Regions from separate parts of the Homo sapiens genome. Here all the other regions are reported to be linked to region 2. Evidence: microRNA targets listed by miRTarBase, many of them from high-throughput screens and not tested one by one. Region 2 holds a microRNA gene; each other region holds the end of a gene's coding sequence.

Region 1 (8,419 bases), not on the chromosome of region 2:
TCCAAAGATTTTTTTTTTTTTTTTGAGGTGGGGTCTTGCTTTGTCACCCAGCCTGGAGTGCAGTGGCCTGATGACAGCTTATTGCAGCCTTGGCTTCCCAGGCTCAAATGATCCTCACACCTCAGCCTTCCCAAGGAGCTGGGACTACATGTGCGCACCTCCACACCCAGCTAATTTTTTATTGTTATTTTTTGTACAGGTGGGGTCTTGCTATATTGCCCAGGCTGGTCTCAAACTCCTAGGCTCAAGTTATTCTCCCACCTCAGCCTCCCAAAGTGCTGGGATTATAGGCATAAGCCACCACATCTGGCCTTAAATCCAAGATTTTTAAGTAATTTATTGAAAGGAATATGTTCATACTGCCTCCCAGTTTTCGGATAAAAGAAACCCATGCCCTCAGACAATTTACTCTGAAGTCAGTTAAACTTTAGTAGTCTTTAGAGTGAAAATAATATGTTCATATGATACTGAAATATTTTACATAAAAAGGAATATTGTCACCTACAAATTGTATACATTTTTATAAAGCTAGCTACTGCTAGATTAAAATGTGGTATTAATGATAATGTCACAATTTATAATATGTTGCCATTATATATTCTATACTATCTGATATAGTAAATGGTAGCCATTAGCCACTTGTCACATGTGGCTATTTAAATTTAAATTGTAATTAACTGAAAGCACTTAAAATTGTAAAAATTACTCAGTTGTATTAGCCATATTACAAATACTCAATAGCAACAGGTGGCTAGTGGCTACTGTAATGAATGGGGTAGAGCATTTTCATCATCATTGATAGTTCTGGCTGGGCGTCGTGGCTTACACGTGTAATCCTGGCACTTTGGGAGATCGAGGTGGGTAGATTGCCAAAGTCCAGGAATTCAGAACCAGCCTGGGCAACATGGCAAAGCCTCGTCTCTGCAAAAAGTACAAAAATTATCTGGGAGTGGTGGTGCGTGCTGGTGGTCCCAGCTACTCAGGAGGCTGAGGTGGGAGGATCATCTGATCCTGAGGAGGTCTAGGCTGTAGTGAGCCGTGATCACACCACTGCACTCCAGCCTGAGTGAGAGACCCTGTCTCAAAACAAAAACAAAAACAGATAGTTCTGTTAGACCAGCACTGCCTAAGTATTTGATTGTCTAGAATATAATTGTAAGATTAGGATCCAGGGTATAGTATAAGTGGGCTCAGTTTCTCCTCACATTACTGTAAAATAGTACATTCAGCAGGGGTTTAATAAGCATCCAGTTTGTCAGCCAGAAAGTAACTTTACTGTGTTGTTCTTTTATAGTAATGGAATAGAGTAGTCTCAATTTTTTAAAAATTATTATGGTAATATCTTTACTTTTTGGTAATAATTTTCTGTTTGATCCGCCACTAAAAAGGTACATATATCTTAGTAACAAGTAAAAATAGATTTGATTGCTTTTAATATGTATGCTTAATAATATTTGTTCTTTCTTGGTTATTTTCCTTACCTGGTACAGGTAGAAGAGTCAGCAATGATGGGAGTAAGTGGCTATGTGGAGTATCTCCGAGAGCAGGAAGTATCTGAGCGGTGGTTCCGGTACAACCCTCGTCTCACCTGCATCTATTGCGCCAAATCTTTCAACCAGAAGGGAAGCCTGGACCGCCACATGCGCCTACACATGGGGATCACACCATTCGTCTGCCGCATGTGTGGCAAGAAGTATACCCGGAAAGATCAGCTGGAGTATCATATCCGCAAGCACACAGGCAACAAGCCCTTTCACTGTCATGTCTGTGGCAAAAGTTTCCCCTTCCAGGCCATCTTGAATCAGCACTTTCGCAAAAACCACCCTGGCTGTATACCCCTGGAGGGGCCTCACAGCATCTCCCCTGAAACAACTGTCACATCTCGAGGACAAGCTGAGGAAGAGTCACCTTCACAGGAAGAGACAGTTGCTCCTGGGGAAGCTGTCCAGGGCTCTGTGTCCACCACTGGGCCAGACTGAAACATCCAGGGGGAGGGGGCTGACCCTCTTCCCCTATGAGCCATAAGCAGCCAGCATCAGAGCCATGGGCTGATACTTAGATTCACAAAATGCCACATCACTAGGCCAGAAGATGCTCCCAAGATGTTGCCAAACTGGAGGATCAGCAACTTACACAAAAGCACTAAAGGCTCCTCCCTTCTTATTGCCCGCCTCACACTTTGGAAAATAATCAAGCAAATCAACTTTCTAATTCAGGGATCAACAGCCTTGGTTTGTTAACTTTATAAGAAAAAAGGTTTTTTAACAAAACGATGATGATAAATGGTCATTTATCTATCAGTCATGTTTGAACACTGTACTTTGGTCCATATCATCTTGGTGGCTATAATTGCCCGGATCTAAAAAATGCAGCAGGAGCCTCAACCATCCGAAGCAGCCAACCGCAAGAGAGGAGGTAGTCATGATGGTGATGAGGAGGAGAAATTTCTCCTCTTCCTTCCCTGGCATAACATGCATTTTTGTGTTTCAAGAAAAAAATGAATACTGGTGGTTCTTATTTTGAAAGGTTAGGCTTTATCTTTCCCCTGACTAGGCATCTAATACTTTGCCTGGTTATTTCATATAATCAGCCATCTTGAAGCAGTATTCTAGTGGACAACATCACCTGAAGCACTTGGCAACTGGGAGTGAAATGAGCAGCAAAGTGTATGCAATAGGTACTGCTACATTTGGGGGGCTTGAGTGTTGTGTTGAGGAAGAGGAGAGCAGGGAGGGAAGTGTTTTTATGTTTTGCAAATATCAAACAGCACAGAGCCGTTCTGCAACTTCCTGACTGGTATTTGTAAACCATAGTGCTACACATCCTTGGGTAATGGCTCTAGTTCAGGTGAATTAATGTGTTAGGCTGACTACCAAAGTTTCATCTAGTCTCTTTGGCTCCTATTTTCACGTTCAGCAATATTGTAATCAAAAATGTCACTTTCCAGTGAAATGAGCCTGGATTGTATTTTTAAATCCACAGGTCTCCATATTTGATAACTTTTATATGAAGTTTTAAACATGTTTTTTCTGCAGTATTGTGGTTGAAGAAATTCAACACTATGGTTCTTACTGCAACCACAATTTCATTTCCTTATACATATGTAATAGTTTATATTTTCAGGCATATAGAAGGACCTCACTTAAAACTATGTCTCGGGTCTGCAAACCTAGTAATTCATAAACCAACCATCAGCAAACCATAGCTGGTGACTCCAAGAGCTTTGCTTTTTAATAATATACTACAGGGCACTTATCAGAAAACATCATGCAGAATCATGTTGCAATAAATGATCAAAGGATCAATTTTGGTCAGGTTTGGTTACTTAGTCATTCCTAAGATTTTTAAAACTTCAAGGGACCCTTTTAGTAATTCTGGGTATTTCTAAGATTCTTAATCCAGCACTGAGAGAAAGAACTTAGCAAACATGTAGAGCTTTGGATACCCCGTCTTTCATGAAGTGAGAGAAGGAGGAATATTAAGGGATGCCGGCAAATAGATGCTTATAACTTACAGTGCAAGTTGAAAAATCTCTAGCTTCTGTTGACGGAGCACTAGTTGTTGGGGTTCTTTTAAGTATGTAATGGTTTAAGAAATTGTTTCAGTGCAGAGGCATAGATGACTGTAAAAGAGATTTGGCAGAGGGACAGGTTGTACCTGCACTGGTGAACCATCTGTGAGAATGTTAGTCATGTGCTCCTTTCCTGAGATTGCTTTGTGGTATGTGAAAAGGTGGGTAGAAAAGAAAGAAATCTCTTTGAGATAAGAAATTAGAATGCAAAGGGTAGATCTTAAGCAATCTGAGAATTGTACATGTACATAAAGCTGCACCCTCTCACAAGAGAAAGGTTATTTTATCTTCTGAAAAAGCATAGAAATGCATCTTTTATGGGAAGATAATGATGCTACCATTTAATAAGAGCCTACCCTTAAAGGCAGCATTGAAACTGTATTTTGTCTTTAGAAGACATAGACTGGTGCATCCTCCGCTTTAGTTAGACAACAGCATGATAAGGAAAAAACTGTCTTCTAAAGCCATCTTTAGGGACTGGCTGTGCTCTGTGGCATAGAAAAGGTAAAGTTGAATTAGCCAAAAATCCTTAGGGAAACAACTGGTAATAAGGTTTTCAGTGGACAGATTTTGTCATTACTAAATAGGCAGTGAGGTGAGAAGTACAGATTATGCTGCTTTGGATGGAGCCTTTAAGCCTACCAAAAAACTTTTAAGTCCATCCTACTTTTGAGAAATAGTATGCTAGAAAGTTCTGTTTTTCTTTTTCTTCTTTTTTATATTTTTTAGAGACTGTGTCTTCCTCTTGTCACCCAAACCAGAGTGCAGTGGTGCAATCATAGCTCACTGTAATCTTGAACTCCTAGGCTCAAGTGATTGACCTGCCTCAGCCTCCAGGTAGCTAGGACTATAGGCATGCACCACCATGTCTAGCTAATTTTTAAATTTTTTTGTAGAGACGGTGTCTCTACAAAATTTGCCTAGGTTGGTCTTGAACTCCTGGCCTCAAGTAATCCTACCACCTTGACCTCCCGAAGTGCTAGGATTACAGGCATGAGCCAGTGAACTTGGCCTGGAGAAAGAATTCTTTGTTGCTTTGTTAGTTTCTTAGATTATATGTGAGAAAATGGAGCTTTTTAAACTATTACCAAATTTTAAAGGTGAAGTGCAGTAATTTCTGTAAAGAGAAACTTTGCAGCATTTGTCAATTCTCCTTCCAGGGTTAGCAACAAACAAATGAGGTAGGGACTATCTCATTCATGTGGAAATGCTATGAATGTTTGGTGGGTTTCCCCTCCCTTTTCTTTTCATTCACTTTAAATAGCCTTTTCCTATATTGATACTGTGAATAGGGTGCTTCCTGGTCATCTAGGACCACTTTAGCACAATCATGTTTGCTGGTTCTCTCAATTGGCCTAGCCAGAGCCACAAAATTCATGAAAATTTAAGGCAGGCTAGCTTTTAAACAAATTAAAACTTCTGAAAACAATTTCAGCTTTTTCGTTAAAAGAGATGTTGTTATTCTAAATAACTGTCCAAGACTCTTACCCACATACACTGTGACATTGTCCTAGTTCTTAGCTAACAACACATTGGTCATAGGAGTTACTGATGTTCTATCTACATTAATGAACAGCTATTGGTGTATGCACAGAGGATACCTCTTAAGGATGTACTAAATGGACTTTGTTTGGTTGATGCTGAAAATTAATTACCAAATCTTAACTTGCACGTGTTACCTTGTGAAGGGAACTGCATTAGCAATGAGAGCTACATCATCATGAAGTACTTTAATGCCATGAAATTGCAAACACTGGGACTGTTTTCATTTATTGAGTGGCACTTAGTAGCAAAGGAGCTATCCAGTATTCTCAGCAAAGAAGAGAGACGGAAGTATATTAATCTATTTTCATACTAAGATGTTCCTTTATTCTGTCTGAACTCTAATACCAGTATAAAATATAGCATTGGCATGAACAGTTAATGCTGTACTTAGGCAGAAAGGCTCCTTCTAATGACTTGTTCTCTCTTTACTCAGAACCGTATTTACCTCTGAACCAAGTTGAATTTTATTTTATCCAAGTTGCAAACTACCCCATGCCATTTTTATTATAATAGAGGGTTAAATCTAATCTCAAATACATAAAGGTAAATTAGTTCATAGAGGATAAAGTTTGGGAATGAAGAGAGCAGTTAAGGAAAATTTTATTTTTTGTCATTTTTTAAATGTTTCCAGTTCCCTCTACATCAGTGAAACAGGGTTTTCCAAAGATGGTTTGAAGATAGAAAAAACTTTTTCCCCCCGACTTCATAGTTGACATCTGGTATTGGTTGGAATTGGTCTGGTGGCAGAGTGAAGTAGGGAACTTCATTTTTTTCTTTTTTTTCTTAAAGGCAGGGTCTCACTATGTTGCCCAGGCTGGTCTCAAACTCCTGGGCTCAAGTGGTCCTCCTTCCTCAGCCTCCTGAGGAGCTGGGACTACAGGCGTGTGACCACACCTGGCTGTAAATGTCATTCTTAATAGCTGAATAATCTTTGGTCAAGAAGTAACTTTTCCAGAGTTTTAGCTGTTACTTGACATTAATTGGGTTTCTTTTAACTGGTGAAAACTGTATTTATTTTGTTTGACCAGACTGTCTAACTTAAATGAAAGCAATGGATAATGGAAAGGAAACTGAACAAAGACAAAAGTCTTCTTCATCATAGTGAAAGGCATTTAATCAGGAAGAGTTGGAATCCTGGAAGTTTTTCTTTTTTTCAGGTACAAGAGGCATGATTTTTTTCTCTTCCTAAAATGTCCTTCCCCTTATCTGTGTACTTATTAGTTCAAGGAATAACAAATGAGTCTTAATTGAACTTAGTCTTTGGAAATTGAGCTCTTTATTTAGGTTATATGTGAAAGAGTTTAAAATATTGAAATACTTTGGTTGCTAAGCAGATTTAGAAAAGCAACAAGCAATTGTCGGGCAAATCCCTAGGTTTGAGAAGATGTCCTCAGCAAAATATACCCTTAGGACTTACGGAATTAGATCAGGGTTCAGCAAACAGTAGTTTCCAGGCCAAATGCTGAGGCTACTTGCTTGTGTAAAGAAAATTATAATGGAATAGGGCCACACTTACTTGTTTAGGTATTGTTTATGCCTTCTTTCTACTACAATGGCAAAGTTGAGTACTTGTGACAAAGATCACGTGGCTACAAAGCTTGAAAATATTTACTGTCTGGTACTTGTTAGAAAAAATTTGCCAACTCCAAGAAAGAATTACCTCCTAAAGTTGTTACTCATGACATTTTGCCTTTATAATAGTTTGGTTGAAGTTTTAAATTCATGTTGTCACATATACATGTTTTCTTGAAAGAGTTTGCCAACTTTTTCTAGATCCTCTTATCATAACTCTTTTTGTGCTCCTTCATGATTTTTTTGTGCTCCTTCATGATTCCCATTACTTTAAAAGCATTTAGAATTGGCCTGTTGTTTGTCCTTGTCTTAATGGTGCCGGTATTTTAAAGTTTAGTTGTAAGTAAGTTTTGCCATTCCTCTGAGTTAACTTGAACTGGTTTGCATAATGGTGACAAGAATGAATTTTTTCCCAAGTGGATTAAAAACTAATTTCATTATGAAGAAGTATTTTGATTCATATCCAAAGTACTGTTTTTCTGGATTAGAACCCCTACCTTTTCCCTTTGCAATGTATCTTAATTTTAACTTCTTTAAACTTACTCTGTTCCATGTAGAGCAGTAAAAAGCCAAGTTTTTCTTCCTTTTTTCCTGGATGTTTTGAAACATAATGAAACATCTGAGGATTTCAAATTCTTTTTAGACCTATCTTCCCATTTCTGTTATTGTCTATAATTCTTCTAAATACATATTGGACCATTAACATGTTTGCTTTGTGAATGTTCATTCTTAGTGTTCAGATAGCCTACTTATACTCGATGTGGGAAAAATGGGAAATGTTAGGGGGTTCATAAACAGAAATCCTTGCAGGAAGCCGGGTGTGACAGCAGACACCTATAATCCCAGCTACTTGGGAGACTGAGCTGAGAGGCCCACTTGAGGCCAGGAATTTAAGGACCAGCCTGGGCAACATAGACCTTATCTCTAAAACAAAAAAAAATCCTTGCAAGAAGAGAGAATAATTGCTTCCCATTTGGAAATGATATAGGGACTTTTGAATTAGATCTATCTTGACAAAGTTTTCTAGGCCATGCTGATACAGTATAGGGAGTTTGAATCTGTTGTGAGCGCTGTCAACATAGACAAAGTTCAAGTGAGTAACTAGCTTTCTATAATAGGGACTCTCTTCACTAGGTATTTTAAAGTTGCTGCTTTCTAATTGGATATTAGGAAGTTTTATATGATATACCCTCTGAGTAATAGATAATCCTCATCTATAAAGTTCCAGAATATTTGCCTAGGTTAGATCTCCCCTGGCTTAGAGCAGTTATACCTATAGTAACAGTAGGTTTTTGAGATTTTGGAGTATTACTTTTCTGATTAACCTAGGATTCTGATTAACCTGGAAGGTGGGACTTGTGAAAGAAATTGGATTTTGTTAGCCCAGTGAATCATCTGCATCCCACTCTATTTGAGGTCTTGGTAATAGATGTCAATTTAAATATGCATCTATTGAAAGCAATGGAGTTTTCCAAGCATTATGACTTCCTTGATAATTTTCAGTCTTATCTTTTTTCGTATTTTCTAGTCTCTTTCCCTGTCTTTAGTCTTCTTCCTCTTAAATGGTGCTTTTCCCAGGGCCAGTCTTTCTACTTTCTAAGCAAGCAGGCTTTTTTGTTCAGGATAAGCCAGAGTTAGATATTATGAATACTTTGAAACATCTGAATATGTTACATTCCAAAGTATGTAATTATTGATAGTAGTATCAAAACCTGGAAGATATTGGTGCAG
Region 2 (8,419 bases):
CAAGATTTCCTACAGTCTTGAGTGACAGGTCAACAGGTTAATTATTGATATGGAGGAATAGCAAGGAAGTGATACAAAGCAGAGAAGAAGTAAAGCAGGTTCAACTCAGGTAGTTTACAGAAAGAAAGAGAACAAGAAGTGTTTTCTAATATATAATTTTAAATTTGTCTATTTGCCTTAAAGAAGGCATGCTGCCTAGTGCTAATTCAGAAATATGTTGGAAAAGGTAGAGATGCATTTTGTTATGCAGACAGAAACAAGAAATTTGGAAATAGATGTAAAAGGTGGAAGTTTAATTTTGGAAGAGGAAATGGTATCAGTTAATTATAGATTTATTATGCTTAATGCATCACTATATTCAGTGGCAGTTGTATAGGTTGGAAAAAAAACAGACAAAAATCAAAGAAGAGAGAGAGAAAAAAAGAGAATACTTGCATTCAAGAAACCATAAGAATATGCTAAGTAGACAAAGGGAGTTTGGTCAAATGGAGCCAAAAGAATAATAAAGATGAATGTTCCATGTTCCTCTTAGGGCATTTGTCTTAGAGGCGTTCTTCTCATTAAAATTTTGTAATAATAAACCAGAAAAAATTATGTCAGAATGAGGTGACAAACTGGGCCTCATGTGGTTCAAGTAGCTCTGCTTTTTGCAGAAGGACAAGAGAGAATTTGAGTAGAAAGAAGATGCTTCCCTCACCTTACATATGTAGCCATGTTTTAATTACTTCAAATCTACGTGATGCATCCTCAACTGACTTGGTCCCAGTCAAATGTCACTCCAGTTGATGCCCCTGAATCCACCTTCCACCACCTGCTTTATTGGTGGCCTCCAGTGGTGGGATGGGGACCCAACACCTGGGAACTGTAGGGCTCACTCTCCCCGCATGATGGCTTTAGAATTGGCTGGCGTGGTTGGCTGTGGCTAGTTTCCAAAGAGTGGTCTTGCTCGCTCTTTGTACCCTCAAAAATAGTTAGAAGAACCAAAAGCATTACTAGAAACTCTACTCTGATGATTAATTGTATGTGTCAACTTGACTGGCCTAAGGGATGCCCAGACAGCTGATAAAACATTATTTCTGAGTATGTCTGCCAGAGTGTTTCCAGAAGAGATTAGCATTTGAATCAGTGGACTGAGTAAAGAAGATCAGTCAACAATGTGGGCTGGCACTGTCAAATCCCTTGATGGCCTAATGAGAACAAAAAGGCAGAGAGAGGAAGGGTACATTCTCTTTCTTCTTGAGCTGAGACATTCACCTTTTCCTGCCTTGCAAAATCAAGGCCCTGTTTCCCAGGTTTTGGGGCTCCAGGATTTACACCGTCAGCTCTTATGGTTTTCTGGACTTCAGTCTTGGATTAAATTAAAAAATGAGCTTTGCTAGGTCTCCATATCTTGCCATAGCATGAACCAATTCCCATAATAAATCTCCTGTCTGTATCTATAACTATTTCTGTATCCACCTATATATGTATCCATCTATTTATATCTATATTATTTCTATTTAATTTATAGATAAATAGACATATCTATCAATAGGATAAGTTTATCCTGTTGATTGTATTTCTCTGAAGAATCCTCATACAGTTATTGAAGACAGTCAGATTATGAGAAACAAAAATCAGCCAAAGGAGCTCTCCATGGTGCTTGGTTGAAAGTGAAGGTGCTTGGTTGTAAAGGGCCTGGATGAAAGTGAAGACAGAAAGAATTATGAGATCCGGAGCCAGATGTGACCTGACAGTTACTCTCATGCAGGTCTCATTATGTGGAAGAGCATTCTGAGGTCCGGACAGGTTAAGTCACTTGCAGAGGTCACATGGTGAAGAAATGATGAAGCACCTTGCAGATCAGATGCTGGCTCAGCAAACCCATGTCTTCTTCATCCCAGGCACACAAGGCTACATGCACTTCCAAGCTTCCCATGTGCCAGAGGTCTTTGTGGAGCCCAGTTCTCACCAGTGGGGTTGGGTGGGGCGGTTGTGTGCTGTGTGCTACTTATGACATGCAAACCTTCACGCTCTTTTCTGTTCCTTGCTGGCTGCAATGGAAAAAATCCCCAACTTGTTCTTAGATGTCTCATGTTGGAGTTAGTAGAATCACAATGTAGAAGAAGTCTGGTTTCTAAGATCAGCCATTAACAAAAGCTCCCTTTTCAGTAATGCCCACAGAATAACATTCTCTGAACGAAGAAAGAGCGGACATAAACCCCTGTAATTTCTTCAGTTACTTGTGTTTTTCTGATGCCATTTATGTTCATTGAGCTACTGTTATTTGAGGCTGATCTTCAGAAGCCACTGGTATTACTGTAACTGATTCAGTCAGTGGATTAAATGTCTCACAACACGGCCATCTGCTAGAAATGGGGAAAGAGCAATGATGCCCTCAGGCTTTGACAAGCTTCTTGGCTGGCAGAAGAAAGTGGAGTCAGGCTTTGAGACTAGGGATTTAGGGGGGGAAATGAGGCCCCTCAAAGTTGATGATATCATAGCCACACTTTACTATTGTGCCTTGTACTGAATTTGCATGGAGATGGCATATGTCGAGGATTTCAACAGGGCTGCTAAGTTTCTCCAATTGCCTTTCCAATGATCAGCCAAACATCGTATTGGTCAGTACATATATGATTTTAAAATGTAGAATTAGAGAGAGCAAAATAGAGAGAGAGAAAGAAAGCTAACTATAAGAGATATTTAGATAATGCATGTTTTGCAGTGAGTTTGACATTATAATTGAATGACTTCAGACATTACAATGGCATCTACTAAAATGTTTTCCACAGGCTGAGATTGCTGCCTTGCCCTTGGTCTACCCCCAAGTTTCTCAACCATCCCACTGTCAGAGGCGTTTGAACCAGAGCAACTCCACTATCTTGAATAGGGGCTGGGGAAAGTAAGGCTGAGATCTGCTGGGCTGCATTCCCAGAAGGTTAGGCATTCTTAGTCACAGGATGAGATAGGAGGACGGCAGAAGATACAAGTCATAAAGACCTTGCTGACAAAACTGGTTGCAGTAAACAAGCCGGCCAAAACTCACCAAAACCAAGATGGCAACAAAAGTGACCTCTGGTCATCCTCACTGCTCATTATATGCTAATTATAATGTATTAGCATGCTAAAAGACACTCCCGCCAGCGCCATGACAGTTTACAAATGCCATGGCAACATCCAGAAGTTACACTACATGGTCTGAGAAAGGGAGGAACCCTCAGCTCCAGGAACAGCCCACCCCTTTCCTGGAAATCTCATGAATGGTCCACCCCTTGTTTGGCATATAATGAAGGAGTAATAATAAGTATCCTCGGTGGAGCAGCTCAGTGGAGTAACCATTCTTTTTTTTTTTTTTTTTAACTTTCTTAATCAACTTGCTTTCACTTTACTCTATGGACTCACCTCAAATTCTTTTTTGTGCGAGATCCAAGAACCCTCTCTTGGGGTCTGGATAGAGACCCCTTTCTGGTAACACCACTATTGACATTTGGAAGGAGATATTTCTTATGATGGGAAGCTGGCATGTGCCCTGTAGTATCGCTGGGCCTCTGCCTGCTAGATGCCAGGAACAACCTCCCAGCGAGGACAAATAAAAAACGTGTCCAGATATTGCTAAACATCCCTAGAGGACCCAGTTGCCTCTGATTTCCCTTGAGTAGCTAAGCATAGCCAGAACTTACATTTGTATAAATGAATGAAAGAAAGAATAAGTCATTTTCCTAACAATGGTTACTTTACATTTGAAACACTAGAGCCCTTTCCCCACTTCTCTTTATGAACACAGAGATCGCCTGGAAAAAGTCTATGCACTTAACCCTTCTACTAGGTGGCTTTGGGTATAGAAGAAAAAAGCCCCACACCCCGGAGCAATCAACATTTAGGAAAGTGAAATCACAGGAGAAAGAGGGTGTCATACAAGTCGCTACTAATTTCCTTGACAAACGCTGTTTTGAGGAGCACTGTTAACTCTCTGAAATCTCTGTTTTCTCCCTCCTGAAAGATTTTTAGAGAGGATTCCTTTCAAAATTGGGTTCCGGGACTCCGTGTTTCCAGTGGAATGCTGTCACCATGAGACCCCGTGACGCACTAGCCCAGGAATGCCGGCAATAGCCAAGCAGAGCCCTGTGCCTGTTCTCTTCCTGGCACAGAGGCACACAAAACCCAAGCAGGCCCACCCAAGTCAGATCCTGGGCTGTGGGAAAGCCTTAGTGAATGAGCTCATTGAAGTGGAGAGATGAAAATGAGGGAGCTCTGAAACTGGCAGGGCCTGCAGAGGATTCCTAGGGGCAATTCCTCTGCCCAGAAAACAAGGGAAGGGGCCTAAAGCCCAAACAAGGACCCTCCTGATTAGTAGGGAGACAGAAAGCTCCACTCTCTTCCCCTCGCCCCCGCCCCCCACCCCATAAAACAAAGCTATTCGGGATGCTTCAATTGCCAAGTAGTGCAACAAATCACTTTGCCAAACGTGAACTCTGAAGTCAGGGGTGCTCAGCTCCGGCAAATGCCACTCTATGTCTGCTCATCCATGCAAGACGCTTTGCAATGAGAATGTTTACACTAGCCCTCCGTAAAGCACACAGTTACAACCCATCAGGAGGTATGCAATCAGCAACCAGGATGCACTGTCTGCTCTGGGCTTAGAGGCTATGAGCTAGGGCCATTTGCATAACTGAGTCAATGAAGGTGGTGAAAAGGGTTTTGATTCCTATCTTGCATGTGGAATCTCATTCTCTCTTAGAGATAATGAGTTATGGGGTCATCTATCCTTCCCTTGGAAAATGATCTGAGATGACACTGTAGCTCCCCATCCTCTGGGATCATTGATGTCTGTAAGATTTTATAGGAAGCAATTGAGTTGAGTGTACCCCCTTTCCCCTGTCCTCAATCTAAGTGATAATCTCTGGCACCCCAAAGGGTGTCAGACTGCTTTGTTGATCTTAATTCTGGAATCCCTCTAATCCCTAACTGGGCTTCCCACAATACCAGTGCCCTGGCTTAAAGGAGGTTTGCAGTATGCACACATCTCTGAGGATGGCTCAACTCTCCTGGCCCCCAAGGAATTCCAGGTATTCCATCCCTCTTAATACCTCCTGAAGTCTCTTAACTTCCACCAGACATCTTGTAATTCAGCCTAGATGACCAGATTTGCGTTTGCACCTGTCAATCAGCCTTTCGAGTTCTTGATGGAGAGAATGGAAAACATTCCGTTCTTACCAGACAATTCCTCTCCATGCCACAGAGCTGGCAGAGCACCTAATAGTGATGCTGGGTAAAGTGGCTCTCCAGGGGCACTGGGCTGCTACAGTTTTGAGGACAAGCACCCACACACAGCCAGTGGGCCCCAGGGCAAGCGCACTGTGAGGCGTGAGACTCTACCCAGTAAAGCTGGAGCCTTCAACCCCATAACTCCACCAACATTTGAAAACTCCAATTGCCTCTGGAAGATACTGCCGCTTTCTTCTCCAGGAAAGCATCTTCTGTCTGCTGAGAGTAATATTGTGCGTGGAAAGTCCCTTACCACGTAGTGTTCAGACACTGGAGAAAGGGAGAGGGAGTCATCACTCTGAGAGAATCCACGAGAGATCTGTGAAGCTGATGGAATTTCAGGGCGCAGGGTGTCCTATTCATACAGTAGACCTGAGTGTGTTCTGCTCACATTCCAAAACAACAGGACAGGGGAGGTAAGGACCTATATAGAGAGCCTCTGCCTATATAAATCAGCTTTCCTTCCAAACCATAAAGCCAAGGAACACTAGAGCTGTGAATCCTGGGAAGCATTTTGATTTTGTGTTCTTTCACATCTGTCTCATTAACATACGAAATAAAGTTAGTTAGTTGCAGGTTGTTTCTTTTTAAAAAAAAGAACAAGACAGGTGTAAAATCTATAAACACCTGCTAGATCAGTAACTGCCTCTCAACAAGACCAGCTGGCACATCAACATCTCCAGGAGATCATATCTTAAATGTAAAGTGAACAGTTAATGTTCCTGAACTACCTCTTATTTTAAAGCCATAGGAAACCTTTTGCGGGGGGGTGGGGGGCATCTCCCCAAACTCCTGCGCATGACAAGAGCTCTGCACAAAAGATAGGAAGACCCGGTCACCCTAGGCCACCTCAGCAAGGCGGTTGGTTATGTTCTGCTGAGAAGCCATGGAGCGATTATGTGAAGAAAGGCTGTTCTCTTTACCGGTGCCAAGAAAAAGATTAGATAAGAAAAGGTCACTGGGGCAAGGAGGGGTGAGTGGTTGTTTAATTTTTAACAAACATTGCGCACTCCATAGCATGGCTGTTTCCCCCACTGTATGATGTTTCAAACATTAATTGAATAAAGGGATGGTCTAAGCAAAGGTAAAAGTAGCCCTAAACAGAATGTTCCTTTGTGATCGGCGAGAATAGTTTGGGACTACATAGTCATGGGGCCTCAGAAGGACAGAAAGTCTACAACCAAGTTTGTGTTTTTTAAATGATTAGATCCAATCTGTGGGTATTTGATAAGTTGCCAAAACATTTCTTTAAATGTGTCGGCTGGGTGCGGTGGCTCACGCCTGTAATCCCAGCACTTTGGGAGGCTGAGGTGGGAGGATCACTGGAGCCCAGGAGTTCGAGACCAGCCTATGCAACATAGGGAGACTCCCATCTCTACAAAAAAATAACAAAAAATCGCCAAGCGCCTATAGTCCCAGCTGCTTGGGAGGCTGAGCTGGGAGGGTCGCTTGGACTCAGATCAAGGCTGCAGTGAGTTATGATCGCACCACTGCACTCCAGCTTGGGTGACAGAGCAAGATCTTGTCTCAAAAAAAAAAAAAAAGGACAGATGTTGCAGGGATGAAGAGTAGGATGAGGTGGGTGGAGGACATCTTTGGGGAAATGACAGGGAGCCGGTGAGACAGAATCCAGAGATGTAGAAGGGAAGTCAGCACAGACATTGGCCTAAGCCCTCCTTGTAAGGGACTGCAATGTAAAACGAAACCTTTCATACTACAGGAGACTCCACGGACTCCTTAACCAGAGCAATAAGGGGAAATCTAGCAGCAGTTGTAATCTTAAATTCCTTCTAAGAGGCAGAAAAGATAAGACACATACACAGAGGAGAAGGCCACGTGGAGATGGAAGTAGAGAGTGCAGTGATGTGGTCACAAGCCCAGGGAAGCCTAGAGCCCCCAGGAGCTGGGAGAGGCAGGAAGGTTCCTCCTCTAGCATCTCTGGAAAGGACTGGATACAATTGTAGTGGATTGAACAGTTGCCTCCAGAAAGATAAATCCACATCATAAAGCCCAGAACCCGGAATATGACGTTATTTAGAAAAATAGTCTTTGCAGATTTGTAATTAAAGTCAGATCTGGAGATGAGATTATTCTGACTTACGGTGGCCTTAATTCAATGACCAGTGTCCTTCTAAGAGACAGAAGAGGAGACATGGACACAGAGGAAAATGCCACGTGCCACATAGAGACAGAGGCAGAGACAAGTGATATGGCCACAAGCCTAGGGATATCTGAAGCCCCCACGACCTGGGAGAGGCAGGAAGAGTCCTCCCCTAGAGCCTCCGGAGGGCATGCCACCCTGCCCATACCTTGTTCTCAGACTCCTGTTCTCCAGGACTGGCAGAGGATATAATTTTTATTATGTTAAACCACCCAGTTTGTAATGATTTGTTACAGCGGTCCTAGAAAACTAAAACTAATAAACTAGTACAGATTCATGACACTACTGTGTTGATTTGCCTCTGCAGAGAAGTAGGTACCATCCAGGCAAGGATTCAAAGCGGCTGGTAGAGAGCTGGGCTCAGAGCAGGAGGAAAGGCCAGGCTTTTGCTGAACTCCTGGATGGACACAAGCTGTGGAAAGGTCACCAGCAATTGGCTGCTAAGAAGACAGGTCAGTGTGTTTACCTGATAGACCCAATTCAAGATCAAAGGAAGCTTCAAAAACAACGCACCAGTTACTTCCAGCAAGAATTCCATGAAGACCCTGAAAATCTTCTATGTCTGTAATGTGGCGGACTCTGGCTGAATACGACCCTGCAAAGGGCGTATAAAATGTATCTTGTGTTCCAAAGCTTCTCAGTGTATCTTTTCATTTGTGCCTTTCAAAAACCAACGTGATTCCACAGGGCTGGCCTGTCTCTACGATGTGGGCTGTAAGACAGCCTACTGTACCCCTCTGAGAGGTTTTTCTTAGCTGATTGATTGGGAAGGGTACAGGCACATCCCCGTTCATGGGAGGAAGAGGCGTCTGCTTCAATAAGTATATGACTGTGGCTGGCAGATTAAACAGACACTACAATGCAGTTACTTGGATTCTTAAAGTTACCCAAACAAATGAGCAAAGAAAATTCATATAACCCCACCAAAAAGTGGGCAAATGCCATCAATAGACATTTCTCAAAGGAAGATCTACAAATGGTCAACAAACATGCTCCACATGCCAACAAACA
Region 3 (8,307 bases), not on the chromosome of region 2:
GTGATGTCTGTGTCTGTTGCTTGTCTGTAAAGTGGGACGCCGGCCGTGCTGCCCTGTTGGGCTGCTGTGAGGGTGGAGCAAGTTAACACATGCACAGCCTGTAGAAGGGTGGCCGTCTGCCGTTGTCTCTGGTGGCTGTATGATGTTCCGGAGGGAATGTCGTTCTAAGCGATGCCTTGCTGAACACCCCCTGCGCTCTCCTTGCAGGTGTCGAGTGATACTCACTTGATACTCTGAGTGTGGCCAACATGCGGGGCTCAGGTGGCTTACTGCTTTTCCTTCCAAAGGCCGACTGTGGTGACCTTGCTGAAGACAGATCATCCGTCTCAGGGTCTGGAGTCGGGGTCCCACACTGCTTGCCGTGAGAGGTCAGGGGGCGGTGCTGGCCTCTGAGCAGCCCCGTGGCACTGAGGGCTGGCCCAGGTGCTCTCACAGGGCGACCTCCTGACGCCCGTGCTCACCGTGGCCCTCGCTCCTAATCCCACCCTCAGGTTCTGAGGCAGGAAGCAGTTCCCACACTTGGCTACTGGGAAGGAAGGTTGTGTGGGGGGGCAGAGGCTTCCTGTGTGACCTGGAGCTGATCTTTCCCGCCCCTGCAGGTGCAGCAGTACCGCGTCGCCATGACTGCCAAGGACTGCTCCATCATGATTGCACTGTCTCCCTGTCTGCAGGATGCCAGGTGAGGCCCCCACTGCAAGGCATGCAGCCTGGGTCTAACGGGGTTTTATGGACAGTTGGTGAATTGTTAATAGGATAGTTGGTTTCCCCATATTTAGAGACTCCATGGCGGAGTGACATAACTTCCTTGGCCTATGTGACATCATGGGGCTTACTAACTCTCGCCCTCTAGAAGCTTGTAATTCAGTCAAAAGACAGATTTATGGAGAATAACTTAAAAGGATTGTTAGTACATTGAAAGTTACTGTTTTCTAAGAAAATACTCCCAAGAGCTCAGAAACAATGTGGACAGTGAGCTGCCCATTGCATTCCCTCAAAGAAAGCCAGCCCCTGAGATGTGTGGGTACCTGTGGCCCTTGTTCCTCGGTCTCCCACAGTGGCAGCATGGCGCACCTGCCTTTTTACCACCACAGTCATTTGAAAGCCTGTGAGGCGCGCATTCATTCTGCTTCCTCTTCTGAATAACCAGCCTATGTGCCGCCCCTCTCCCTAATGTCACTAGTTTTGTCCAGTCCCCTCTGTTTCTGGGAATTCGGGATGAAACTGATAATCTCATAGTCGTTAGACAGCATCTCCATCACCGATCTTCAGGGGTGCTAAACCCTGCACCCAGTATTTGCGGAATGTTCCACATTCTTCTAACATGTGTTCCTGGGTCAAGATGACCTTGGTTGCTGGCTGCCAGCCACTCACTTTCCCGGTGCTTTTGAACTAAACAGTTCCCAGGATTCCTGTTCCCTGGCAGGCACAGAATTGTTTACTTTCCAATATGAAATACTGAGGAACATTATAGGGCTAACTGAAGTAGAAAAAAGGTTGTTCTATTTAGTTGAAAACTCCTGTTATCCCCTAAGGAAATACCTACAGGGCTAAGTTATGAGGAATTCCTTAACTGGATTAAGCTGGTGGTGTTCGATGAGAGAAAACCCACGAAGATACCACTGTTCAGCAGCCCCCCGACCAAGGATGCAGCTGGGCAATGGAAATGTGCTTGGATGCAGGGTGCCCTTAGGTGGGCTGTGAAAGGCCGCTGAAGGACAGACATGTTACTCACCTCGTCTAGCACCTGGGAATCTCTTAGTGCCTGGTCAGTGATGTCAAATTGGAAAGCCAGCATGCGGGGAAAGCTGAAGGCCCGGGTCCTTACGACCAGCTGCTCAGCAGAAACGACACTAGGAGGGGAGGGGAGGGCATGTCCTGAAGGCACTGAGCCATGTGGCTTCTCAGACCTAGGGTGTAGGCACTGGAACCATCCTGCACAAAGCACTCTAGCCAGGCCTTTCTCAACAAAAGGAGAGGATCTCAGAGAAGGCTTCTCCTCCGAGAACATGGCGTGTGGGGCTGGGCCTGCTTCCAGGAAGGTGTGCGCAGTGGCCGCACCTGTGAAGTTCCAGTAACTGTGGTGCTCTAGAGGCCTAGGGACAAACTAAGGCTGGGATTTATCATGAGTCATCTTGGCGTCTTGAGATACCTGGTAGACCTGAGACTAAATTTAGATCCCTAGACTAATTTGCAGCTCACAGATAGATTGACCACATTTAAACTTCTTACACCCCCTAAAATAAAGGCTTCTCCAGCTCTGCACTACTGTTTCTGCCCTGTCATAAAGGAAAATGTCTCAAGTTGGATCTGCCTTCCTGTCGCTGCAGAGCTTTGTCCCTTTGGGAATTTGGAACTGTGGAGAGAGCTGCCACAGCTTCCCGGCCTAAACCCTGATGCTCCTCTCGACCTCCCATTTGAAACACAGTGTGCGGCCTTGGCTTCTCCACCCCGATCCCCAGCACCCTTGGAGGCTGCTGGTCCCCCGGTAACCCCCAGCGGGTCAGTGTCCTGGAGAACGGCCTTCCAGGCAAGGGCTGCCCCCCTGCAGCCAGAAGGCCACCTGAGCCTCATTCTCCAAGGCTGCTAGAGGGCACACTTGTGGCACAAGGGACAGGTGTGTCCCTGGGGCCTCTTGCCCAGTCTTGGCCTCCGGGGTACTGAGGGGGAAGAAGAGCATTTCTGTGTCAGGAGCTGGTGCCCGCTGGTCACTGCCATTGGTTCCCATGGAGCTAGCTTGTGGTTGACCCAGGTAGTCAGACCCTCCCCGGGAGCTGCCTGGAACATCCTTCCTGTCTTTACACCCATGGTCTTGTCAGGTGCTGCTTCTGAGAAATTGGGGTGTCCTTTAAAATACGTAACCCTAGTCATGGGCTGGGGATGTGACTGTTCCAGCCCAGGTGCACCCAGCTTGGGTCTCAGGCCTCAGAACTGAGCAGTACCTTGGGCTTCTGAGGTTCTCCCAATAAAATGTGGCCCCTTGGGATGAGCTGCAGGCACACTCCAGCTTCTGGAGCGAGACTCATGACCTTAATTTGTAAATGAGTTATTTGCTGTTTACTCTTCAGATGAGAATAGTTACTTACCCCAGCAGCTTAGTCAGGGATTTGTTTTTTCTACAAACAGGATTCTGGGGCAGGGCAGCAGTGAGCGCCAAGGCCATGGTGAGCAGCGTCAGAGCAGGGACGTGCTGATCAGTATTTCCTCTCCTCGGCAGGAGCTTTTGAAGTTGGGGTTTGGCTTGTTGATTTCTAAATCTCAAAGCGTAGTAAACATTGGGACACCAGAACCCAGGATACTTCTCTTGGACTGAACTGAGCTTAGGTCACTTGTTTAGCCAGTGTCTTGAGTGCTGTGCGCTGAGTGCCCGGAGACGAAAAGCGGGACACACAGCAGTCAGAGCTCAGGACTCGGAGTAATCCTAAATGTGTTTTTCAGGGCAAATAATTAATCACATCTTGTTATAAGCACACGACTTCTGAGGTTAAAACCACAAAACTAAGCCCTGAGAAGCAAAATACAAAGGACTGAAGATAAAATTTGAGAATAAAATGAGAAACCAGATCTCTTCAAATGTGAACCAAAGGAGCTTGCGTTTCTCAGCAGACAGGAGAGGCAAAGAAGAAGGCTTGTCGACATTCCATCCATTTGGCGCTGGAATGGCCAGATCTACTTTTTACTTTTTGTTGGGTTTTGTAATACTTGGCTCATGATAAAGTGATTTTTCAGCGTTCGTTTATACCACTGGGCTGGGGGAACATCGCTCACATGTTCCACATAATTACTTTTCCATCTTTCAGTCCTTTAACCCTCTCTCGCCTGGTATGGTGGGGTGCACTGGCCTGAGGAAGCTTTGCACGCTGGTGCACACAGCCGGCACAGACAGCTGTCACACGCACAGATCACAGGTGCACAGAACGAGTGCTCTTTGTGAGCTGGGGTGTGAGGCCATTCACTTCTCTTTTAAAAGAGATTGATTTATCTAACTTTGCAGAAGTCAAAGAAAAAACATAAAAACATACTAGTTGAAAGAAGAAAGGGAGAGAGAACGGGAGGGAGGGAAATGAATGGGGGGCTTGTGTATCCTGAAATGGTACTTTTTACTTGCAGCTCTGATCAAAGGCCTGTCGTCCCTTCATCGAGGTCCAGGTTTGCCTTTTCCGTGTCTGTGCTGGACCTTGACCTCAAGCCCTACGAGAGCATTCCCCATCAGTATAAACTGGACGGCAAGATCGTCAACTATTATTCAAAGACTGTACGTGCCAAAGACAACGCCGTGATGTCGACTCGGTTCAAGGAAAGCGAAGATTGCACATTAGTTCTCCACAAGGTCTAACTCTTTCCCTGCAGTGTCTTTGAAACTTGAACATAATGTGAAGGCTGAATGATAGAGATATTTTCTGTTGTGTTGGGTGACCTTTGGTTGTGAATGTTTTTGCTTTTAACCCCTTTTGAGGTGGGATTGCCTCTTGGAGACATGGAATTGAAGAGCACTAGAAACAACTTCCTGGACAAGGAATGTAGGAAGTGAGTGCTGTGTCCCAGGAAGCTGCTCACACTCTTAAAATGGAAGTGTCCGTTAAGCCCTGGGAAGACGTTCTGGATAGTTCTTCTTTCCCAACCAGGGCTCATGTCTGATTCTCTAATGCGAAAAGCCTTATTCTAAGACCCAAGGTTTGGATCTGCTACCACCAGACTCCTAACATAGAAAACTTGAATTGTCACATACATTTTACAGTTTGGACTTTTAAGAAAACATGGATACTACTGGAACTTCCCCCAGCTGAGTTACATGGTCACTTTTTCAGTGCAAGCCACATATCAACACAGGTTTTTAGGTGGTTCCCTGCTGCACAGCGTGACCTCGTGGTCGCGCAGATGCCGATTCTGAGCAGTGTAGACTCAGGGTCCCTGTGGAGGTGCTGAAGCCCACAGTTCCACACAGGGCAGCAGGGAGCGCAAGGCTCAGGTCAGGATGGACACCACTCATGCGAGCATTGACCTTTTTTTTTTTGCTTTACAATTTAATCTTTCACATGAGGGGGAGATGAGCTGTTCTTTCCCACTAAAAATTGCTGCTGTAGAAGTTGGAGGTGGAGCTGTGACTGGCTGAGCTGCTGTGGCCGGGCTGGGCAGTGTGCCCCAACAGCTCAGTGCTTTCCTGACACTCCAGTGTCTGGGGTGGTTGAGGAGCGAGTTCTCTCTTCCTCCCAGACCAAGTTCCTCCCTCGGGTTTGCCTTGAGACGTGTTGCGTTTTTGGGCCCCGTGGCCTCTCCCTGTTAGGCTGCCACAGGCCCTGCTTCTGGAAGGTGAACAGCTCCTGGCTGCTGCCGAGAGGGTTCTCGTTGGGGTCACCAAAGTGTGCCCGGCTGCTATGAAAAACGTTGGGAATCTTGGTTTCAGTTTTTTATTCTATGCTAGGTTGTACAGACTTATTTATATCATCGTTTTGAGGGACTAATGGAGGCTTATTGTAACATATAATATTAGTGAAACCATGGAATTATATGAAAATGATACATGAGAAATAAGGAAACTATTTTGCTGATTGTAAATTTTTGTGGGAAATTTTGTGATAACTTGAGAATTATACTTGTTTGAATCAAGGCAACTCTTCTAGAATTTATTGTTCAATTCTGTCATATTTACTTCTAATTCTACTCTCAGAGGTGCAAAAAGATACTTATCTAACTGGACACTTTTACTGTTTTCTTCTCACTTCCAATGACACCGTCTCATACACACGGGTCCTGTGTGCTGGGATGGGGGCTTTGGTGAAGTGCACGGAGCTCACGGACAAGCCGCAGGCTCTGGGAAGCGTGGAGGTAGTGGCCGTTGAGTACTGTCTTGACCCAAGGGAGTTCACTGTTGCTGGGCTGGGGCTGGGGCAGCCTGGTTTGGGATGATTTTGCCCATTGTCACGGTGTGTGGAGGATGCTGGGTCCTGGGTTCAAGTGCACATGTGAGGGAACCCCAGTCCGTGGGAAGGTGGGCTGGGCTCCCTAGGTCCTTCAGGGCTGCAAGAGTTATTGCCTAGCACAGGGCCCAGACAGGGCTGGACTAGACACGATGAAAACAGCCTGTATTTGAGGGAGAAGAGAAAACAGATGGAGACCCCCACTCTGTCTGGTCTTGGCTCCCACCAGCCCGGGCTGTGAGGAGCCCCTGAGCCGCGGGTGCCACTGCTGTGGATGCGTTTCTGGCCCGTCTTGGAAACTGCTGCTGCTGCGTAGTCATGACGGCCCTGACTGGTTTGAGACAACACGCGTTCACAGATCTTAACAATGCTAAATGGGCGACTGATGAGGTCACGGTTCTTAAGGCACATCCGGGACGATCGATATAGCACTTAGGCTATGCAGGGGGGTCTTTCTTTCATAAAGGACCTCATTCCTTGCGTCCCAGCCCAGGAACAGTGCTGTCTTTGCTGTCTTAGGCCATTCTTGTTATTAAGCTGACAGCTTCACTTTCTTGTGGAAGACCAAGAACAGCATGAGGACTTGCTGAGACTGCCTCACGGTGCCACCATGCGGACCGGGGGGAGGCAGGGAGTGAGGGTGTGGCTCCCCTGGGCTACTAAGGACAGTTTAAAGATGAGGCGCCATAGGCATCCGTCTCCAGAGCCCCCAGGAGGCAGGAACCAGGATAAGGGTGGCTTCTCCCAGCTGAGTAATGTGGCCACCATGTCCAAGGTGGACTCGGTGTGAGGCTGCAGTGGGTGGGGGATGGATCCTCCCCACACATCTGAGGACACACAACCACTTGGTACATTTTCTCAGATGTTAAGCTTATTTTTATAAACCACATTGTACGTGTCACTTTTATTTGGCATTTTATACTTAACTAGTTGTATTTATTTTTCATGTCATGAGAGTTTCCATATAATGTGCCATAACTGCATAGACAGCACGTCTTCAGGGTGTGGTTTCTAAGCAGAAAATAGCAAATGTTTATATTGAATAAAATTGCATGTTCCTCCACGCAGCATCTTCATCCTCCACGTTCACTGTTTTGGAACTAGTTGTTCTCCTCTGCACAAAGCGATTTTATCAGGCTTTCCAGAGCAGCTTCGATTCCAAGCAGTCCTACCAGGGTTCGGAAGCTGAGAGGAGCAGTTTCTATGGCTCTGTTCTTGTCCAGCTCCAGGGCTATAAAGAAAACATTAAACCGGGTAAGAAACTTCAAGGTGGCAGCTTTTGGTCTTTTGTTTTCTGCTGGCATGGACCTCACCAAGACCCCGCACTCCTCCCGACTAGCTGCATGGGATGGGACATGCTAGTGGCGGGCGAGGAGATGGAGTGAGTGGAGGCCTCACCTACGGCTGGAGGCATATTCCCTGTGCATTCAGCCTGGGAGGGCCTTGGGGCAGCAATCCCTTTTCATGTTCTTTTTGAGTGATTATTGATAAAAATATTTAAAAATTGATAGACAAAGTACATTAATGAGATTTCCAATTTTTGATTCTTGCCCTTTGAAACCCAGAGGAAACAGGCAGGCGGCTTTGCTGGGCATGTTGAGAAGTCACCTAGAGCAGCCACACCCAGGGCCCTACCTCGCTGTGGGACTTTGGTGAGAAGATCCAGCTTTGGAAAAACCTTCCCATCTTCATCTATTTGTATCCTCCAAACAATGACTAATTCAAACCTGAAAAAGCAGTAAAACATGTCGTTATGTGCTTTTTGAAATCTGGCGAAAAGATTAGCAACCATGAGTCGCACCTGGTCTCCATTTCCCCATGCTGGGCTCCCCTGCTAGAAACCCCAATCCACAGCCAAGAAGAGGCACAGTCAGTAGCACAGGCAAATGGAACCAGGATCACAGGAAGGTGCTGCTCTGTCCCCACTGCATTGGCAAACATTAGTAGGCCAATACCAGCGAAGTACAGAACATGGAGCAACAGAAACTTCAAAATTACTGGTGGGAGCAGACATGGACAAGCCACTTTGGAAATAATCTGGCACTGACAGTAAGCTGAACATGCATCCATGCATGACACAGGAATTTCATTTCTAGGCAGTTGAGCCCAGGAGAAGCTTATGTACTGTGTGCCAGGAGGTGTGAGCCAGAACAAAGAAGCCACGTGCTCCAGAGCTGAAGAGCGCAGCAAGACGCTGTGTATGATCCCCTCCGGGAGGATGAGCAGTGAAACTGCACTGCAGCTGCTCATGACCCTGGAGGAGGTGAACGGTGACAAAGGCAAGTCCCAGAAGCCTGCATAAGGACCACATGATTTTAAAGCTTGGAAACCAGTTGAGTTGAGGCATTCACACACAGGTCATAAAAGCACACCCAGATGGATACATGTCCAC

Evidence for each region. Region 2 holds the annotated microRNA hsa-miR-4770 (UGAGAUGACACUGUAGCU, at 4,767-4,784, shown strand). A microRNA usually pairs through its seed, bases 2 to 8, with sites in the 3' UTR of a target mRNA and lowers its output. Matches are read on the target gene's strand: a 7mer-m8 pairs with bases 2 to 8, a 7mer-A1 pairs with bases 2 to 7 and ends in A, and an 8mer does both.
Region 1: miRTarBase lists ZBTB37 as a target of hsa-miR-4770. The part of its 3' UTR that is shown has no 7-base or 8-base seed match.
Region 3: miRTarBase lists CENPP as a target of hsa-miR-4770. Seed matches in the 3' UTR shown: 7mer-m8 at 5,042-5,048 and 7mer-A1 at 1,010-1,016.

What each region holds. Positions count from the first base shown.
Region 1 is chr1:173,884,146-173,892,564 of GRCh38, forward strand. It overlaps ZBTB37 (zinc finger and BTB domain containing 37), which reads left to right. Exons shown (of 5, transcript NM_001122770.3): 5 at 1,491-8,419. The coding sequence ends at 1,979. Among named protein-coding and RNA genes, the nearest start is that of ZBTB37, 20 kb to the left of the region's middle.
Region 2 is chrX:6,380,272-6,388,690 of GRCh38, reverse strand. MIR4770 (microRNA 4770) reads left to right here and starts at 4,728; the gene lies at 4,728-4,785.
Region 3 is chr9:92,611,858-92,620,164 of GRCh38, reverse strand. It overlaps CENPP (centromere protein P), which reads right to left. Exons shown (of 8, transcript NM_001012267.3): 7 at 7,551-7,642; 8 at 1-7,146. The coding sequence ends at 7,016. It overlaps IPPK (inositol-pentakisphosphate 2-kinase), which reads left to right. Exons shown (of 13, transcript NM_022755.6): 12 at 600-679; 13 at 4,108-6,982. The coding sequence ends at 4,333. It overlaps LOC100128361 (a long non-coding RNA gene), which reads right to left and starts at 2,115. Exons shown (of 1, transcript NR_036505.1): 1 at 1-2,115.